Linked DNA regions of Homo sapiens. The protein of the gene in region 4 interacts with the protein of the main gene of each other region in a pairwise test. Each region holds a gene or a part of one and is shown on either strand. Other genes may lie near its edges. The genes, in order: PTN, FAM114A2, PRB3 and TBRG4.

Region 1 (4,882 bases), about 92 Mb from region 4:
GTGTGTGTGTGTGTGTGTTACATGTGTATGCATGTGTGTGTGGTCTCTTGTCAATGGATTCCATACTAGAGCAGTAGTTCTCAATTTTGGCTGCATCATGAAACCTTCTGAGATGCATTCACAATTTTTAAACTACTGATGCTGATTGGGTTAGTCTGTGCTATACTTGGGCACTGGGAGTTTTGCAAGTTCCCACAGAATATTCTAATGTGAAGCCCAGGTTGAGCATCACTGTGCTAGAATGTGGAAGCTTCTTTAATTTCTTTTCCTTTCAATTCTGTATTTATGCTGAATATTTTGGTTCTACAGCTGGACTAAAAATAAATTATTTTGACTACAGTAACTCTGAGTTTTGCCATTTTTGGAAATGTTTCACTTGGTAGATAGGGCACTGATTTTGCTTAGATTTATGTGGTTGTCTCTGGACAAATGACATTTGGGAAGTCTGCATAAGTACTCACTGCAGTCACTCCAGCCCTGCTTCATGCCTTCCAAAAACCATATGACAACAGGCAGAGATTTCCATGATCTGGAAAGGGCAGCCTGAACCCTAGACTCACCACCTGCAGGTCCAGCCTGTACCTGGCCATCCTGAAGTTGGAGATAACTATTTCTATGGACAACTCCAGCAGTGGCCAAAAAGCCAGGCCTGTGAAAAATAAAGTCCTTTCTGGCCACCAGCAGGAAACCAGCCAATCTCCATCACCTTCTGCAGATTTTTTTTTTCTACTTTTATTTATTATGAGCATTTCTTACATGGTCATTTTTCTGAATCTCTCCTTACAATTTCTCTGGCAGTATGAATTTTCAGGACCACCTTAGAGTTAAAATATATGAGTAGAGGCCAAGAAGGTATTTGAATTTAGAGTTCATTGAGTCCCATTGTATTAGTTGGCTATAGCTCCTATAACAAAGTACCACAGAGTTGGTGGCTTAAACAACAGAAATTTATTTATTTATTGTCTTGCAGTTCTGGAAGCTACAAGCCTAAGATCAAGGCATCTGTAGGGCTGATTTCTTCTGAAGGTTCTCCCTATGGCTTGTAGATGGCATTCTTCTCCCTCTGTCTTCACACAGTCTTCTCTCTATGTATTTCTGTGTCCTAATCTCCCTTCTTATAAACACACCAGCTGCACTGGATTAGGGCCTACCCTTGTGACTGCATTTTATCTCAATTACCTCTTTAAAGACCCTGTCTCCAATACAGTGACATTGTGAGGGGGTTAAAACTTCAGCATATGAATTTGGGAAAACACAATTCAGACAATAACATCCATGATGAAAGAGTTTATTTCCCTCAGTTGGGATCCTTGTATGTATGAATTCATGGCCATAATGATTGTTTTTACCTTCTCCAGCAAGAGAGCAGAGCCTGACTTTCTGGGAGATACAGATCTCTGTCATTTAAAAATTCTGTGATGAATGTAGTTGGTAACCAAATTGAACTCAAAAAATATAAAGGCTCTGAAAACAAATGCAGAACCCATTAAGTTATGCAGTGAATAAAGGGAAAATGTAAAATAATTTTCCTGATTTTGTGAAAACTATATTTCAGATAATCTGGGAGAAGTTTGATTTAAAATTGTCTCCGTCATAAACATTCTGAGTTTGTTTTTCTTGTCAGGATACAGTTCCAATTAAGAGTGTGGAATATATGGTCATCATACAACTGTCTTTGCTGGTTTCTTTTGCTATGTTATTTATTTGGGTTAGGAGACTGTACCAATCCCCTCATCTATGCAGAGGACTTCAATTTGCACTCACAGGCTGCCTGCTTCAAAGTATTTTTAAAGTATTTTTGTGACTCTCAGTGTAGGGGAGTTTTTCAGTCACTTTCTTAAGGTAATTCACCTAATATTTCCTTCTGGAAAATGTGGGTTTTCCAGATCTTACCTGAGTCCATCAATCCATTAAAATTGTGGTATAATGGCAAGGACTTACCTTGAGGTTTGGGCTTGGTCAGTTTGCCACAGGGCTTGGAGATGGTGACAGTCTTCTGGCATTCGGCATTGTGCAGGGCTCGCTTCAGACTTCCAGTTCTGGTCTTCAGGGCTGTGTTCAGGTCACATTCTCCCCAGGCCTGGAACTGGTATTTGCACTCCGCTAAAGGCAGGGTAGAACCAAACAGAAATCCTTGAAAGATCCTATCGTACTTCCAGGATAATAAAGGCACACTTTTGTTTGTAACTTTTTTATTGAAATAATTATAGATCCATATGCAGCTATAAGAAATAATACAGAGTGTATGCGTGTGTATTGATTTCTGTTCAATTCTATCACATGTGTAGATGCATACGATCACCATCAATATACACCATTAATACACACTAATATACACTATTAATATACAGTCCCAATACAACAGTGGGTCATTCTTTATAGTCATGGCCTAGCCACCTTCCTCCTTCCCCACCTCCTTAATCCCCGGCAACTCCTTATCTGTTCTCTAGCTCTATCATTTTTCTAGCTTAAAAATGTTGCATAAATGGAATTCTACAATATGTAAACTTCTGAGATTGGCTTTTTTATTTAGCATAATTTCCTGAAGATCCATCCAAGTCATGTGCATCAATAGTCTGTTTCTTCCTATTGCTGAGTAGTATTCCATGGTCCCAATGTACCCCAGTTTGTTTAACCATTCATCAGCTGAAGGACATCCGAGTTGTTACCAGCCTTGGGTTACTACAAATAGAACTGCTATATAAATTCATGTATAGGTTTTTGTGGAAACATCAGTTTTCATTTCTCTGAGATAAATTACCAAGAAACTGCTGTGTTACATGGTAAATGCATGTTTCATTTCGTAAAAAACTGCAATACTCTTTTTCCACTGTGGCTGTACCACCTTACAATTTCCACTGGCAACATATGAGGGATCTGGTTTCTTGGCACCCTCACTAGCATTTCGTCTTGTCACTATTTTTTATTCTAGCCACTTTGATAGATGTAGAGTGATATCTCATTATGGTTTCAATTTCTAGTTCCCTAATAAGGAAAAGATGCTGAATATATTTTCAGGAGTTCATTTGTTGCCTATATATCCTCTTTGGTAAAATGTCTGTTAATGTTTTTTCCCCACTTTCTTATTGAACTGTTAGGTTTTGTTTGTTTTGTTTTTTGTTGTTGTTGTTTTGTTGTTTACTGTTGAGTTTGAGAGTTATTTAATATTCTCAATGTAAGTCTTTAAGATATACCTTTTAAACTTTTTGTAAGTGGGTTTTTAAGGTGCCCATATACAATTTAAGACCAAATGTACCTGTTCTCCATCACACTTTTATAGAACTTGTCTATATCCATTCAAATAAAAAATACCCCAAAGATTACAGAGGGAGAAAAAGACATACATGTATACATCCATTATCCTTCCTCACTTGTCTATGGGCCACAATGCATTTCCATAGAACACAGATAGGACATTTCAGGCATCATGTCCCACTATGGCTAAGAAAGACAAAAAGTCTGGATTGTGGAAGAGGTTATTTGAGGGTTCAATACTGGATATAAAGTTGAAAGTGTTGAGAGATCCTGTCTCAGATAGATAGATCAGGCCAGCATAAGACTGACTCCAGTCAGTGGGAGAAAGATTTATGAAACGTGGCTGTGAGCAGCCCTGCTGAACTCAGTAAGTGAATCTGTGAAACTGTGTGGAGGTTGGGGAGGGATCAAATGGGAGAGAAGGTCTGAAAGTGACAGGGAGAAACATGGAGAAGCAGGAGAATAAATAAGAAAAGGGGAAAGGAAAAATCAAAGGAACTTAGAAATAGAAGAAAGGAGAGAGAAGACAGATCAATTAACATTATTCAGAGGAATCAAGGATATATTTTATGTCCCTTTGGAAAGGCAGTGGTTCCCAACCAGGGATGATTTTGACCAACAGGGTACATTTGGCCATAGATATTTGGAGACATTTTTAGTTTTCACATCTGGAGCGGGTGAGGAATGCTACCGGAAACTAGCGAGTAGAAGCCAGCGATGCTCCTAAATACCCTAAAATGCACAAGACAGCCTCCACAACAAATAATTGCCTGGCCTGAAATGGGACCAGTCTGGTCACTTTGTGTCTGGTAAGATAAAGTTATTTAAAATAAAAAGTACTTATCCTTAAAAAGACATTTGGTGGAAAAATTTGAGAATTATCTCAGAGTAGGAGATTAACTCAGTAGCATGAGGCTTACCGCCAAATTGCTTCTTCCAGTTGCAGGGGATCTTACATCTCTGGGTCTTCATGGTTTGCTTGCACTCAGCTCCAGTCCGAGTGCCCTCCCGTGTGCCCAGCCCACAGTCTCCACTGGTGGGCACACACACACTCCACTGCCATTCTCCACAGTCAGACTTCTTCACTTTTTTTTCTGAATGAAAGGAGGAAAACCTAATCAACATACAGAAAACTCCTTAACTTCCAGATATAACCAAGTTCATTCCTGAGCACCTTAATTGCAGGATCTGTGTTTTTTAATCTGTATCCTTATTGTCTAATGAATAGTAGAAACATGATGAATATTAACCAAATTATTGAACCAATGAATGATCAAGAGAAGAGAGAAAGAAAACTGAGAAAAGAGCTAAAACTAATATTAATTGAACTCCCTCTTACTATGTGCCAGAGACTGTGCTAAGTGATTTAGTGGCATCTCCTTTTAGAAGCAAACATTTCTATAAAAGAAGAGATGGTCAAAAATATAGTTCTCCTAAAAATGAAGAAAATATTCTATTAGAAATAACAGTTGTCAGCTGGGCAAAGTGGCTCATGCCTGTAATCCCAGCACTTTGGGAGGTCGAAGCAGGCAGATCACAAGGTCAAAAGATCGAGACCATCCTGGCTAACATGGTGAAACCCCAACTCTACTAAAAATACAAAAATTAGCTGGGCGTGGTGGTGCAT
Region 2 (4,882 bases), on a different chromosome or scaffold from region 4:
GAGGTCAGGTCTAGAAATAAGGATCTAAGAGTCAACAGCAGGTTGAGGATAGTTGAAACCACTGGCATAGGATGGATGGAGAGGGAATAGGATGAGACGAGTAAAGAGTGAAGGCTAGACCTCCAAATAATATTGGCGTTTAAGAGACTGGCCAGTTAGGATCAATATATAAAAGATACTGAGGAGAAATGGTCATAAAGGTCAGAGGAGAACAGAAGAAAGTTGGGGTTACAAAAACCAAAGAAAACTAGATTCATTATCAGGAGAATGGATAAATTGTGATATATACAATCATGCATTGCTTAATGATGAGGATATGTTATGAGAACTGCATCATTAGGCAGTTTTGTCATTGGGCGAATATCAGAGAGTGTACTTACACAAACCTAGCTGATGTAGCCTGTTACACACCTAGGCTATATCGTTTAACCTATTGCTCCTGTACAAAACTGTACAGCATGTTACAGTACTGAATACTGTAGGCAGTTGCAACACAATGGTATAGAAAAGGTACAGTAAAAATATGGTATTACAGTCTTACAGGACCACCATTATATATGTGGTCTGCTGTTGACCCAAACATCATTATGTGGTGCATGACTGTATATAAAATGAAATACTACACAGCAGTTAATATGAATGAACTAATACATGCAGCAACATGGATAAATCTAACAGACATTATGTTGTGCTTAAGCCAGACACAAATTAGAATGAACTTATATTTCTATTTTTATGCATTTTAAGATTAGGAAAAATTATTTATAGTGAGCAGAAGAGGGTTTGTCTTTGGGCAGGAGGAGGGGGACATGGTTTGAATAGTATTGGCTAGGAAGGGACATGAAGGGACCTTCTAGGGATGAGGAAATATTCTATATCTTGATCACGGTTTCGTAGGCATATACACATAAAAACATTTCTTAAGCCATACTCTGAAGATTTGTGCACTTTATGTAAATTATACCTTGGTTTTTTAAAAAGCTGATTAGAGGCCGGGCGCAGTGGCTCATGCCTGTAATCCCAGCACTTTGGGAGGCTGAGGCAGGGGGATCACCTGAGGTCAGGAGTTCGAGACCAGCTTGGTCAACCTGGCGAAACCCCGTCTCTACTAAAAATACAAAAATTAGCTGGGCGTGGTGGTGGGCGCCTGTAATCCCAGCTACTCGGGAGGCTAAGGCAGGAGAATCGCTTGGACCCAGGAGGCAGAGGTTGCAGTGAGCCAAGATTGTGCCATTGCACTCCAGCCTGGGCAACAAGAGCGAAATTCCATCTCAAAAAAAAAAAAAAAATACTACCAATTAGAGAATTTTGAAAAGGAATGATGGACCACAGTGATAAGTATTGCTGAGACTAGTAGGATAAGGACTGAAAAGCTAGATGGTACGTTCAGGTAAGAACAGGAGCCCTTACTTCTAGGATGCTATTGTGTTCCTGGTAGGTGCACAGTAATTTTGGTAAACTGAATTGAATTGTTGATGGCCAATATTTTTCTTATTTAGGCAAGAAATACCGCCCACGAATGGATCAGGAAGTCTCTGACCAAGCCATTAGCAGAGAATGAAGAAGGAGAAAAACAGTCGGAAGCAGAAAATACTGAGCAAGTCAACAAAAATTCAATAGAGGTAGCCAAAGCAACTAAGCCTTTTTTGTTTGTTTTAGTAGATTTGAAATGTGTCACAATCAGGGACCCAGGCTCCTATTTTTACACTGCTGTCCGTAATTTCAACCTTGTGATCTAGGATTGTAGCATCTTAGATCCAGACTATAAGATTAAAGGAGGAGTGAAGAAAAAAAGAGAGAAAGGATGCGCGTGTGTTTTGTCATGAGGAAGGTTCCCAGAAACTGCTGCCTGACACTTGTTATCTAAATCATTTGGCCAAAACTTAGTTACTTCGTCACACCTGACTTCAGGGGAGCCCAGCTGTAAAATTATATCACTACTGTGGAAGAAGAAGACACTCTTTATTGGAAGGCAACTATTAGTCTCTGCTACAAATCCTGTAGTATGAGAGAAGTAAGGTGGTATCTTTCCACCAAATGTTTTGTTTTGCTATGCTTTGTTTTGTTTTTCCATCCAGGATATCCATGCGTTTGCAATCCGGAGCCTGGCTGAACTGACTGCCTGCTCAATTGAACTATTCCACAAAACAGCTGCATTGGTTCTGCATGGCAGGAAGCAGGAAGTGACAGCCATAGAAAGGAGCCAAACTCTTTCCCAGTAAGTGTAATGAGAATTCCTCTAAATGATGCAAATTGCAGGAGTTTTCTTGGCCTGTTTCCAAAGTTTTATAAACGTCTCTCTCAAGAAACCATTCACGTCACACCCATCCACATATTAGATGGTTTGTTCATTTTGGTTGTTTTTTTCTTTTCATTGAACCATGATAAATCAATATTATAAATATGCCCTTTTTATTAACCAACTCATGCTCTGAAGACTATTTCTTTACAGATAAGTTTTAATAGGAATGGAATTTGGTATAAGTGAAAACAGAGAAGAGTTCTAAGAACCTCAGTTCTTAATAATAGTTATTATTGAGTGCTAATTTTATACCATTCCAAGTGCCATGCTAAGGGATTTGCATGTATAATTTCTAATTTTTATACCTCCAAAAGTAAGTAATTAGTCCAGTTTTAATCATGAGGAAATGCAAACTGGAGGAGTTAAGTAATCTGTCTGTGCTGTATGGCCTGGGATTTAGCCCCAGGTCTGACTGAGTGTCCTGAACCCATTCTTTTTTTCTCATTTTATTGCTGATTTGTACAAAAATTTTTCAAAAATAGTATAGATAATCATAGGTAGGGAAGAAAAAGCCCAGTAGTTTCTAAGCAAATGTCCTGATTAAAATAATGAGAATTTTCATTGGAAACAAATGTATAAGAGTGCCCATTATTAGAACTGGGAGGGGCTGTCAGTCTTCTGCAGACTTCCTCTTTACTTGCACCATCACCATCCCACTACAGCACCCCATAATAGGGGGCTAATTTGTCTTCTTGAACTTCCTTAAGGATGAGAGACTCACAACCCTAAAAGGAGCCTGTTCTGCGGAAAAGAGGCTATTTCTGCTACTTGGAATGTTCTTTGAAATGGGGTTCACTCCCTCTCTGAATTCAAGTCTACTCAAATGCCACCTTTTTAGAAAAGCCTTCCTTCACCACAAAGTCTAAAATAGCAACTTCCACCATTCTCTGTCCTTTTACTCTGCTTTATTGTCTTAGCTTATATCACCAAGTAGGACTTACATGTATATGAATATATATGTGTGTATATGTATACATATGTGTGTATGTGTATATATGTATATGTATATAGTCTCCCCCTTAATTTAGCAAGTAAGTTGAAATCCATGAAAACTGGGACTTTTCTTGTTCACTGATATGTTCCCATTGCTTGAAAGACTTTAAATAAAATCTGGCACACACAAGACTTTAGGTAACTATTATTAAAGATGGACTAATCACTTACTTTTGGAGTTGTTGTAAAAATTAGAAATGATACATGTAAATCCCTTAGCATGGTGCCTGGCATAAAATTAGCACCCAGTAACTAATAACTAATAACTAATAACTATTATTAAGAACTGAGAATTAATTAATACATATTTTAACTTTTCTAAATGGAATGTAGGGTATTTTGAGTATGATGTTGTCTCCTTAAAATGTATTTTAATTATTTTCTATTTGATTTAACTGGAACATATACTGCTTTCTAGAGAATTTTGTAGAGAAATGTTTTTCTAAGGACTGAACTTCCTTTTTATGTAGCATGAGTGCCTGCTCAGATGGGTCTTCTTATACCTCAGGTGGCTGATTTAGGCATACAGTAGTAACCCCTTATCTGTATGGGTTATGTTTTAAGTCCCTAGTGGATTCCTGAAACTGTGGATAGTACCAAACTTGATTGCCGTCATTTGGAACACATTTCCATTCATGTCTTCCACCCACAAATTTAATGCCTTTTCCGTCTTTTTAAAAAATATTTTACTGATACATAATATATATATATGGGGTACATGTGAGTGTTATATGCATAGAATGTATAATGATGAAGTCAGAGTATTTGGGGTATTCATCACCTTGAGTATTTATTATGTCTATATGTTGGTATCATTTCAAGTGCTTTACATTATTTTGAAATATACAAAATATTATTGCTAAGTATAGTCACCCTATTCTGCTATCAAACATTAGACTTTATTTTTTTCTATCTAACTGTATGTTTGTACTCATTAACCAACTTCTCTTCATCCCCACCCACTCACGCACCCACCTTTCCCCATTTCTGGTATCACAATTGTTCTGTTCTCTATTTCCGTAAGATCATGTTTTTTTAGCTCCCACATATGAGTGAGAACATGAGGTGTTTGTCTTTCTGTGCTTGGCTTATTTCACTTAACCTCGTGACCTGCAGTTCTATCCATGTTGCTGCAAATGACATTTTTTTTAAATAGCTGAATAGTATTCCATTATATGTGTGTGTGTATACACATATACATATATACACACACATATATATACACACACATACATATATACACACACACGCATACACACCACATTTTCTTTATCCATTTTTCAACTGACTTAGGTTAATTCTATATCTTTGCTGTTGTGAATAGTGCTGCAATAAACATGCAGGTGCAGGTATCCCTTTGATATAATTTATTTATTTATTTTCCTTTGGCTAAATACCCAGTAGTTTGGTAGTTCCATTTTATTTTTTGAAAAATCTTCATACTGGTTTTCATAGTGGTTGTACTAATTTACATTCTAACAATGTATAAGAATTCTCTTTTCTTGGAATTGTTGCCAGCATCAATTTTTTTTTTTTTTTTTGAGATGGAGTCTTGCTGTGTCACTCAGGCTGGAGTGCAGTGGCGCA
Region 3 (5,529 bases), on a different chromosome or scaffold from region 4:
ATAAGGGACTTTTAGGGGCATTTCTGTTGTCTTCCTCTACTCTCCTGCCAAGGACAAATCTTTCTTGTATCAGGCCTGCAGCAACCTAAGTTGGCGACAACATCAGGCAATGTTGGCCTGGCCTCTCTGCTGCTCCTTGTTTCTGACATTCCTTTGTTACCTGATGGTCTAACTTAAGACACCTAGGCAGGATTGGTCATCTCCAGTTCCTATGGAGGAGACCAGAGATAGAAATCTCAATAATATAATGGGACCTGCTGGCACAAGCAAGTACTCTCTGCCTAAGATAAAACTCATGAAGACTAGCTAGAACCAGTCCACTTTCCATAGAGCCAGAAATAATTTCCAATTAATAATATATTCCCCTTTCAAGTATGTCTATATTTTTGCCAGGGAAAATATCAATCTTCCTGGTTCCCTTGCAAGGGCAAAGTTATCTGTAGCAAAGCCTTCTGTATTAGGAAGTCTTCCTGTACTATTACCCCCAACTCTTCAGAAGGGCCAGACCAGACCCTCATCTGCACAGTCCAGGATCCACTCATCCACAATGGTCAAGAGGTCTGTCTTTAGGATTTACTGTCACATACCCTCTCTACCTCCATCATACCTCCAGCCAAGCTGTCCTCAAATTAATACCAGCCATGCACAAAATGTGAACAATTACACAAGACACACAGAAGGTCTAAGTGGTAAATGGCAGCTGACTCACTGACTAACCTGTATATTCCATGAACTGATGAGCAGGGATTTACTAGGTATAACAGAAGAATCAGCAGCTAAAAGAAGTGCTAACAATGCAGGACTCTGAGAGGGCTTTTTGGAAACACAACATTTATTGTGAAATTACACAGACAAGAATGAAACAAAGGTGGTGAGAATTATAGCTTATTACTTAGAAGATTAAATAAAGGAAATCTTACCAAATTCCTGGGGAAAAAAGCCAGATATATAAAGAAAATTACACAAAATGAGCTTGACTCAGAAAATAAAATATGAACAAAGAAGTACCAGAAAGAACGTCAGGGAGGAATGCATATCAGAATATTGTAGAAAAAATACTCTTTGTGGAAGAACAATCTGAGAAAACAGGTAACACAAATACTGACTAAACCAAGAAAACCAATACAATGCAATTGAGGCTTTAATGAGGGTATCTGATTACCTTATTTGAATGTAGAATTGTAGCCACTTAATTATCAGAGGTAGGAATTCAATACAATTCTTAAAAGAAATGAAGCAGAGGGTGAATTTTGTAGAATATTCTAGAGAAAGGGAAGAGCATGAAGGAAGTTTTGGCAACATGATATTGCATGGTTCCTGCAAGGAACTATATATTCAGTTTTCTCAGGTCTAGAAATTTCCTCGTGGTTTGTGTGTCCATTTTGCATTCATAACCCCTAAAGATACTTTAAAATACACAATTTTGGCCTTCCTGTGTTTCACAACAAGAAGCCTTTCCTGACTTGAGTGAGATCCACAGAAGCATGAACAATAGCTGTAGCCTGAGTAGGCTGTGAGGCAGCCTTCTGTCATCTGTGTGCCCAGGAGTGTGCTGTCCTCAAACATCTCCCAGATAGCAGAAACTATCTCTATCGCATCAAAAGTTAAGCTAAATGTGATACTCTCTGTACACACACATCACGAGAGATGGAAATAGGCTATAAAAACAGCCAGAGATATTGATCATCATCACCGCTGGCTGTAGCTTCACTGCCCACACACACATACACAGAAATAAATAGCAAAGTTGAAAGTGGACAATAGTCTTACCAAAAAGATTGAAACTCTAATGACGTCTGAAGTTCAATTATGACACCGTGCTGATTGCTTGGACACAGTTCCTTTAAAACCTTTGTTCAAGTCATAGTTGTACCTTTTAGAAATAAGGTACAAACAACATCCAACCCAACCTGTTCCTCTGGGCTAGAGTCCCAGACAGAAATAAGGGATACACCTGACCTGCAGTAAGGAAAGCAGAACCCAGTCTCTGGGGTGGTGAGGCCCACCCAGTGTGGAGCTCAAAGGTGCCACTGTTCTGCTCCTCTTTATAAAGGGAGCTGCCATGGTTCTCCCAGCACAGAGTTGGGAGTGACTCCAGAGCCTCCAGCAAGATGCTACTGATTCTGCTGTCGGTGGCCCTGCTGGCCCTGAGCTCAGCTCAGAGCTTAAATGAAGGTAAGACAGAAGGAGGAGAAGATGTGGTGACTCTGCTTGGGGCTTAGGAGGTGATAGTTGTAATTATGGGGAAGAGAGGAGAATGAAAACACAGATGGGGCTGCAGAGGTTTCATGCCTAGGATCAGGAGACCTGTTGTGCCCTCATTCCACACCAAGGGCTTCTAATTTATTTAATGTACAATGAAAATCCAATAAAGAATTTGTACCAGGGGAATGAGAAGGTAAGATTTGCATTTATAGAGAGATAGAACTGTGCTGTGAAGGATGCAGTGGTGAATGCAAGGCAGATTCAGGAAAGTCCAGCTGTGAAGATCCTAAACTGATCTCAGTAAGTACACAGGGATGATTGTGGCCTTGCTCTACCTAGTGGATCAGCATTGATGATGGAGATAAACACACATTAGAGATACTGCAGAGACAGAACTGGATAAAACACTTGCCTGTGTCTAACTACAGATATAGAAATATCAGATTCAATCATTGTGATTTTTCTTTCCCCTACACACAGTATTTCAATGTGCTGGGAGTGGTATAGGTAAGATTGTATTGAAACAATTACTTCTGGTTACCGAAATTGAGAAAGCTTGTGAATATAAGCAATGTATTTATAGGAGATGGAGGGCATAAGAATACCAAAATATCACATTGAAGTACCTGGCATGTGTAAACTAAATTAGCATTAAGTCTTGAAGGATGCTAGGGAAGAAAAAAAGGGGCTCTTCTATATTGAGTTCATGGCTGTTGCTCTGTGTGGTAACAACCCTGCCTCCCCTTACACCTTCCTCCCCTTCCAGCAGCTTCACAGATGGTAGCTGATGAGCTAACCTAGGGGATGCATGGGGTGTGGTGAGAAGTCCCCTTTCCCTGTAGAACACCTGTGAATCTTGCAAAATTCGAGATGTAACCTTTCCCATCATCCTGTGCTTCTCTTCTAGATGTCAGCCAGGAAGAATCTCCCTCCGTAATATCAGGTAAATCCCAATTCACTCTCAATCTGTTTTAACTATCTTCTTCTGCTTATGAATGGATCAGTTCTCCAGTGTCTTCTCACCAACATTTTCCTTTAGAAATTGATTAATATTAGTCCCCCTAATAATGCAGGCAATCTTCATGCAACCTTGATTTTGGGGACCATGAGCAGGGCCACCAAATTGAATGGCAGAGATGCTTGGCTTAGATGAAAACGGGAGTGGGTTGACTTCCCTCCTGCCAGGAGTGCCTGCTGGGAGATGACAGACAAATGGCCAGTGTCCTTATTCTGACTCCTCCTTAGACTGAGAGCCCCTCAACTGCTTCCTTCTTCTCCAGCATTCCACTCCAGAGTTCTAGAGCTTCACTGAAAATGCAAAGAAATTAGTGTCTGGGTCTTATTTTTGTGCATTTCCCCATTTAGCTGCGTTACTGTAAAAATTTGCGGCAACTATTCAGTGAATGCCGTGTGTCCACCTCCTCCAGGAAAGCCAGAAGGACGACGCCCACAAGGAGGAAACCAGCCCCAACGTACCCCACCTCCTCCAGGAAAGCCAGAAGGACGACCCCCACAAGGAGGCAACCAGTCCCAAGGTCCCCCACCTCGTCCAGGAAAGCCAGAAGGACCACCCCCACAAGGAGGAAACCAGTCCCAAGGTCCCCCACCTCGTCCGGGAAAGCCAGAAGGACAACCCCCACAAGGAGGAAACCAGTCCCAAGGTCCCCCACCTCGTCCGGGAAAGCCAGAAGGACCACCCCCACAAGGAGGAAACCAGTCCCAAGGTCCCCCGCCTCGTCCGGGAAAGCCAGAAGGACCACCCCCACAAGGAGGAAACCAGTCCCAAGGTCCCCCGCCTCGTCCGGGAAAGCCAGAAGGACCACCCCCACAAGGAGGAAACCAGTCCCAAGGTCCCCCGCCTCATCCGGGAAAGCCAGAAGGACCACCCCCACAAGGAGGAAACCAGTCCCAAGGTCCCCCACCTCGTCCGGGAAAGCCAGAAGGACCACCCCCACAAGGAGGAAACCAGTCCCAAGGTCCCCCACCTCGTCCGGGAAAGCCAGAAGGACCACCCCCACAAGGAGGCAACAAACCTCAAGGTCCCCCACCTCGTCCAGGAAAGCCAGAAGGACCACCCCCACAAGGAGGAAACCAGTCCCAAGGTCCCCCACCTCGTCCAGGAAAGCCAGAAGGACCACCTTCACAAGGAGGCAACAAACCTCAAGGTCCCCCACCTCATCCAGGAAAGCCACAAGGACCACCCCCACAAGAAGGTAACAAACCTCAACGTCCCCCTCCTCCAGGAAGGCCACAAGGACCACCCCCACCAGGAGGCAATCCCCAGCAGCCTCTGCCACCTCCCGCTGGAAAGCCCCAGGGACCACCTCCACCTCCTCAAGGGGGCAGACCACACAGACCTCCCCAGGGACAGCCTCCCCAGTAATCAAGGTTCAATGACAGGTATGATTCCAGTTTATTCTTCACCAAGTGCTCTAAGTGTTACAGTTCTCCAACTTTATTGTGCCAATGAATCAACTAAAAACCCATTGACATTGTATTGTCCTAGAACCCATTTCTAAAGATTTGTATTCAGATACTCTGGAATAGGGTAAGAAGACCCTGTATTTCTAACAAACTCTTTAAGGAACTCTGATGTTGAGAAACAACATACCATACAATCTGTCTTAAATTGTGTTGGCAATGAGGAAGTAGTACCATGTCCATTCTTGGTGCTCTGCTTTCGGTCCACAAACTCAGAGATATTGCATTTAAATTTTTCACCTGAGCACTGTTTGCTCATTCCTGCCTCACGCCAGCCTCTCGAGTCCAGTATTCCTGCCAAATGGTCCCTGATCTTTCAGCAGCTAAATGGTGTCTCATTTTTTACATACTTAGTTTTCAGTAAGTACATGATTAAGCTAACAAAAGATATCTAATGGAATGGAAAAATATGAAGTTAATTTTAAAGGCGTAGCTCATCCTACTCACCTTCCTTCCTTCAAAAAGCTACCACTGTTGACTTTATGGGATCTTCTCTTTGAAATATTTATGTGTGCATAGACATACAGCATTCTTTTACCCTACCACTAATACCATAACTTATATGCAGGTATATATGGTAGTCATTTAAAAATACACTTCTTGAAAATTTCCACATCAGTTTATGAAGCTAAATACATCTCTTCAGTGGTTTTCTGTTTGCTTTTACAATTTTATGCTACTCCATTGTGTGGCTGCACCATGATTTCTTTAATCAATCCCTGTCACTGGATACTGAGGGTGGTTTCATCTTATCACTATTATAAAATAGGTTCTGATTATCATATGTGTAAATATATCCCTGAACAAATTCAACAGCAATGAGTCATAACAACCTAAGGATGA
Region 4 (4,882 bases):
CAGGCGCTGACCAAGGGGGCAGAGCAGCTGCACTCAGAGCCCCAACAGCTGTGCAGCCTCTTGGGCTTCAAGCTGCTCATCTGTGAATGGGCCCTACCCTGCCCACCTCTTAAGCTGAATAAGCAGGCTTGGTTGCCTTTTTGGGTTCACCCACGGGGTGAGATGCTGGGAAGGTTAGAGGGGAGGCTGGAGCAGCTAGGATCCACAGTAAACTCCCTCCCTGGGCTCCTGGGAGAGGCCCGGGGCCACGGGCAGGGCATGTGTCTATACCTGCTGGCTCAGTTCCACCTGATCCCCTCTCTAGCGTGGGTTGGGGATTCTCCCTGTGCAGTGACCACCTGCCCAAGAGGTACTCACGTCCACTATCAGGAAGCCTGCAGCCACTATGTGTCGCCGGGCCAGAACAAAGCGACCCAGCAAGTCCTTGCTTCGGCTGTTGAAGTTGGGGAACTCCCACCGCAAGAACGCTAGCCTGGAAGGAAGAAGAGGTGGCTGACATGCTTCCACTCTCCCAGCCCCTCGGAGGGGAAAGATGGAAAGCAAAGAATATGCAGTCCAACAGCCATGGTGCCCCCATGGCCAACAGGTCCCTGGCCACCTACCTCTTAGACCCTGGAGGTGGTGACTGGCTCCCAGTTGGCTGGGCAAGGTGAGGTGCCACAAAGTCCCTTACGGGCAGAAACTCGCCGTCACTGTCCAGCAGCACCTCAGCATCTGGGGAAGGGGTGTGGGATGAGAACATGTTGGGGGACATCCCTCAGAAACCCCCCCACAGGAAAGATGAACAAAGATGGGACTGTGGGGAGCCCAGGCTGACACCCTGCAGCTCCCTAGGTCAGTACTTGCTGCAGACGGGGTGGGTTAGAAGAGTCCCGTTAGACTCAGGCAATGCCAGGCCCTGTGCCAACCAGGGGGAGCCCTCACCCAGCACCCAGCCATACTGCGTGGCCACCTCGAGGCTGCCCTTGTCGGCGCTCCCCAGCAGCCCCTTCAGCGTCTCCTGCAGCTCCTTTTGCAGGGGGGTCACCTTCCTGTCAAGGGCTGAGGGCCCAGGGGCCACAGCCGAGGCAGGCAGAAGGGGACCCGAGTACTCGGGGTACTCCAGCAGGGCAGTGGCGTTGATGTGGAGCAGCTTCTGGAAGGTGTTCTGATCCTTCTGAGACTTGCCCCCTAGGAGACAAGGAGAAAGAAGAGGGAGGTGGGCCTACGGCCAGAGATGGGGAGACCCTGATGAGAGGGCAGTGCACCCCTACACCCAGTCCCAGCCCAGTTTTCTGGGTCAGGAGGCAGCAGAGTTACGGTCTGCTGGCCACCTACAGGGAGAGGATGGAGAGCGAGGGGGAGGGAGAGCCCTGGCCTCCATCTGCCCCAAATTCTCACCTGGCACTAGGCAGACAAGACCAGGCAGTTTCCCAGTTCCAGTAGTACTAGGGGCAGGGGGCTCACCTAGAAATTGGATGTGAAATTCAGGGTGGAGGACGGCTTGCAGCTCTGCTTCCCGTGCCTGCTGCAGCACACACAGGGCCCACACCAGGTCCACCTGCAGGGCTGGCTCCAGGCCTGGCAGCTCTGACCCCAGCTTCTCATGTACCTGGGCAAGGATAGAGTGTGGTGGAGAAAGCAGGCTCTCCTTAGGGGCTGCAAATAGCCATGGGTGAGACACAATCCATGATGTGGTCTTGGCCTGGTTGGGATGAGGCCAGAGGAGGCTACTAGGTAACAAGAGGCAGAACCCTGGCCCTTGGTGAGGCCTGGAGCAATCCTGGGCTTGAAGGTACCAGGAATCTTCCTCATGCCCCAAGACCACTCTGAACAGCAGAAGAGTGCTGCTGAATGCTGGCATTTGATTAGGTTTACTACAACCAACCTACTGGCAGGGAACAAGATCCCTTCTCCCATAATGTCTCCAAGTGAGCACCTGGGACAAGGAAGGAGGAATCTCTGGTCCTCTGAGAGATGAGAGCATCCAAGAGGTGAAGCAGCACTCCCCAGCCCCTGGCTAATTGTTCTCAGGACTGTGCCAGACAAACCCCTGATGGAATCCCAGGGAGCCTGGGATCACACCTGGCCTGCTGGCCTCTGTGGCTGTCCTAAGGTCTTCATAAAGAAGGCTCCCCCTCCTGCCCTGAGCTGGTGCACATAGCACGAAGGCCCACTGGAGCTTCTGAGCATCAACAGGGCATTAAAAGGAGCACCAGAGGCAGGACCCCCCAGCGCTGCCTGGCAGGGCAGTCAACCAGACAGCAGGATTTCATGTGTTCTCAGTAATCCCTAGGATGCCTGGCTCCAATCAGTTCCCCCTGCCCTCCCATGCCACACATAGTGGCCCCTCCCGCCTCCACCTAGCCCGAGCTGATCTTGGGAGGACGGTTCATGAGCCATTAGCTGAAGGGGAGGATAAAGGTCGAGCAGTGGGAGCCCAGAGGCCCTACCAGGCTGAAGAACTGATCCTCTTGGTCTGGATGGAAGTTCAGACGCGCAAAAGCCAGAAGTACGCTGCACAGGTGGGGCAGGGTGATGTCCTGCGCTCTGTTCAGGACGTGCTGGGTGGGTCAGAAATAGCAGAGGGACAGAATAAGCTCTCTGCCCAGCACGCTGTCCTCCTGCCTGGCTCTGAGTCTGAGGAGAGCCTGCATGGCCAGGGGCAATGGCAGGACCCTCCATCCAGGGCCCATGAGCTGTGTCGGGAACAGAGAAGGACTTACACAGGCCCAGACACTCCTTCGCCTGGCAGCAACTACCCACAGAGGCTGGGGACACCTAGAAGCTGCTTCTTTCTGATAAGGGATTTAGAAATATTCTCCAACCAGTAAACTTAGTTTAGACTGGTCACACATAAACGTAACTGCAGGTGTCATCTTTCTGTACAGTTCCACTTTGCGAGGGGGATCAGTGATTCAGTAGACAGTTCTCAGTGGATTCTCAGTCTCATCAGCCATGCTGCTACCTGCTACAGCTACCCCAAAATGGATGGAAGCACTTATAATGGTCAGTGAAAGAACAGAGGAAACAGTTCTCAAACACTTTTTTGAGAACTGAATAGCAGCCCTTTCAAAATAAGCCAAAATGCAAGAAATATGTATTTGCCCCCACAAGTGAGCATTTTCAGACTGGCTTTACTTTCCCGACTAAGGCAATGGTTCCCAGCAGATGGCCAGGAAGCCAGCTTCTCTGAGTTGGGGCCAGGCCCTGGCTCACCTGGGCAAAGGCCTCAAACAGGGGCAGGCTGAGCCACTTGAGTAAGGCGAAGGACTTGGCACAGTGGGCCACCTCACCAGAAGTCAGGCTGGGCATGAGGGATAGCAGGTCGGTGGCCAGGCGCTGGGACACCTGGGTCTGGTGAAAGCTGAGTTTGCCTTCAGGACAGAGCAGATCACAGGGTTTAGCTGGAGAGAGTCAGCAATCACCCAGCAGCTCCACCCCACCTCAGCCTCGAGGTCTAGATATTTGATGTCTGTAACCAAATTTATCCCTGAGCCTGGGACACAGGAACAGGGCCCATGAGTCACAGTGTTTCTGTGGCAGCCTTCTGGGCCAGTGCCTACCATGCATAGGACAGGTACTGAATTTGACACGGCTGCAGGCATCTGCAGGGCCAGCGCTCCCCTCTCTCCACCGTTCTGTCCAAAGGGCTCACCATAGGCATAGGCCACGTCCAAGAGCACATCTTTCGTCAGAGAGAAGGGCTTCTGCACCAGGTGGTAGGAGATGGCCCGCAGCAAGGGCACGGACCGCCGGCTCTGAGCTGCCAGCATCACCAGCACCTTCCGCAGCTCATTGGGGCCAAAGTGCTCCACCAACTCCAGGCACTGTCAACCACAGCCGCGCAGAGGTCAGCTCAATGGCCTGGGGTGGCAGAGATGAGCTGGGGGCAGGGGTCCCATGGTCCCATCCAGTGCAGCCCCTGTGACAGCCCCTGTCAGACTGGGCCTGAGCTGACTAAACACAGGACCACTGTGCAGGGCCTGCCTCCTCATCCACCCCAGGGAACCCCTGGACCTGGAGCACTGTCCACAGCCAAACTTATCCCCAGGTCCCAGGGTAGGTGACCCAGGGCCCATGAGCTGTGGAGCTTGCTGTGGCAGCCATCTGGGCCAGCCCCCGCTATGACAGAAACGGGCACTGAATTTGACTTGACTGCAGGGCTACAGCCGATAGGGGTTAGCACATCTCCAGGAGAGTTCTAGCCAGAAGCCAGGCCTGGGCAGTAGCTGTGTTACTTCAGGAGCTGCCTGCCATGCCCCCCTCTCAAGATCGTGCTGTGATGGGGTTTGGGGGAAAGATAAAGGTGCAATCAGGGAAGCGCCTGTGTTGGGAGGAGCAAGTGGTGCTTGATGAATGCAGCCACAGGGCAACCACCTGTTGCAGCTCCGAGCCCTCTGGTCCTGCCCCATGTGATGCCTGAGGCTCCAGACAGAAGCTCCCAGGGCTCTGATCCCAGTGCACACAACGCACCCCTCTGCAGACAACTGTCACCCAAAGAACAAGCCCAAAGCCCAGGGGAGGCAGGCTGGGTGCCACCTGCTTTCAGGCCCAGTACCTTGTCTTCCAGGCGGTTCATTAGTGGCTCCGAGAGGTGTCCCACCTTCATCATGACGGTCACTAATGTGTGGGAATCTTCAATTTCTGTCCAACGCCTTTCCAGGTGTGTGAGCAGCTCAGCCAGCAGCTCCTGCGAGTGCTGCTCCTGTGAGAGGGTGGCACAGGACTCTGCCAGGAAGGCCAGGTGCTTGTACTTGAGCTTCCGCATGCGCCAGCGGACCTCCTGCTCCACCGACTGCAGCTCCTTGGAGGCCTTGGGGATGCCCAGAGCATACAGGCTTCCCAGCAGCTTCGAGAGGGTACCATGCCAGACCGAGGCAATCTAGGCAGAGAAAGGACA

Evidence for each region.
Region 1: the proteins of TBRG4 (region 4) and PTN interact in a two-hybrid assay, tested with the Homo sapiens proteins (one large-scale study listed by BioGRID and IntAct).
Region 2: the proteins of TBRG4 (region 4) and FAM114A2 interact in binary tests that used the Homo sapiens proteins (3 or more experiments, as listed by UniProt).
Region 3: the proteins of TBRG4 (region 4) and PRB3 interact in binary tests that used the Homo sapiens proteins (3 or more experiments, as listed by UniProt).

The regions. Positions count from the first base shown.
Region 1 is NC_000007.14:137,249,289-137,254,170, forward strand, and holds part of PTN (pleiotrophin isoform 1 precursor), read right to left. Parts: intron 4,350-4,882; coding exon 4,176-4,349; intron 2,104-4,175; coding exon 1,942-2,103; intron 1-1,941.
Region 2 is NC_000005.10:153,999,587-154,004,468, reverse strand, and holds part of FAM114A2 (protein FAM114A2), read left to right. Parts: intron 1-1,499; coding exon 1,500-1,622; intron 1,623-2,078; coding exon 2,079-2,218; intron 2,219-4,882.
Region 3 is NC_000012.12:11,266,252-11,271,780, reverse strand, and holds the start of PRB3 (basic salivary proline-rich protein 3 isoform 2 precursor), read left to right. Parts: upstream 1-2,073; 5' UTR 2,074-2,111; coding exon 2,112-2,175; intron 2,176-3,112; coding exon 3,113-3,148; intron 3,149-3,632; coding exon 3,633-4,588; 3' UTR 4,589-4,605; intron 4,606-5,529. UniProt on the Homo sapiens protein: Acts as a receptor for the Gram-negative bacterium F.nucleatum.
Region 4 is NC_000007.14:45,100,901-45,105,782, forward strand, and holds part of TBRG4 (FAST kinase domain-containing protein 4), read right to left. Parts: intron 4,865-4,882; coding exon 4,541-4,864; intron 4,143-4,540; exon of another isoform or gene 4,006-4,142; intron 3,810-4,005; coding exon 3,638-3,809; intron 3,583-3,637; exon of another isoform or gene 3,449-3,582; intron 3,357-3,448; coding exon 3,199-3,356; intron 2,544-3,198; coding exon 2,433-2,543; intron 1,592-2,432; coding exon 1,447-1,591; intron 1,171-1,446; coding exon 925-1,170; intron 715-924; coding exon 603-714; intron 473-602; coding exon 358-472; intron 1-357. UniProt on the Homo sapiens protein: Plays a role in processing of mitochondrial RNA precursors and in stabilization of a subset of mature mitochondrial RNA species, such as MT-CO1, MT-CO2, MT-CYB, MT-CO3, MT-ND3, MT-ND5 and MT-ATP8/6. May play a role in cell cycle progression.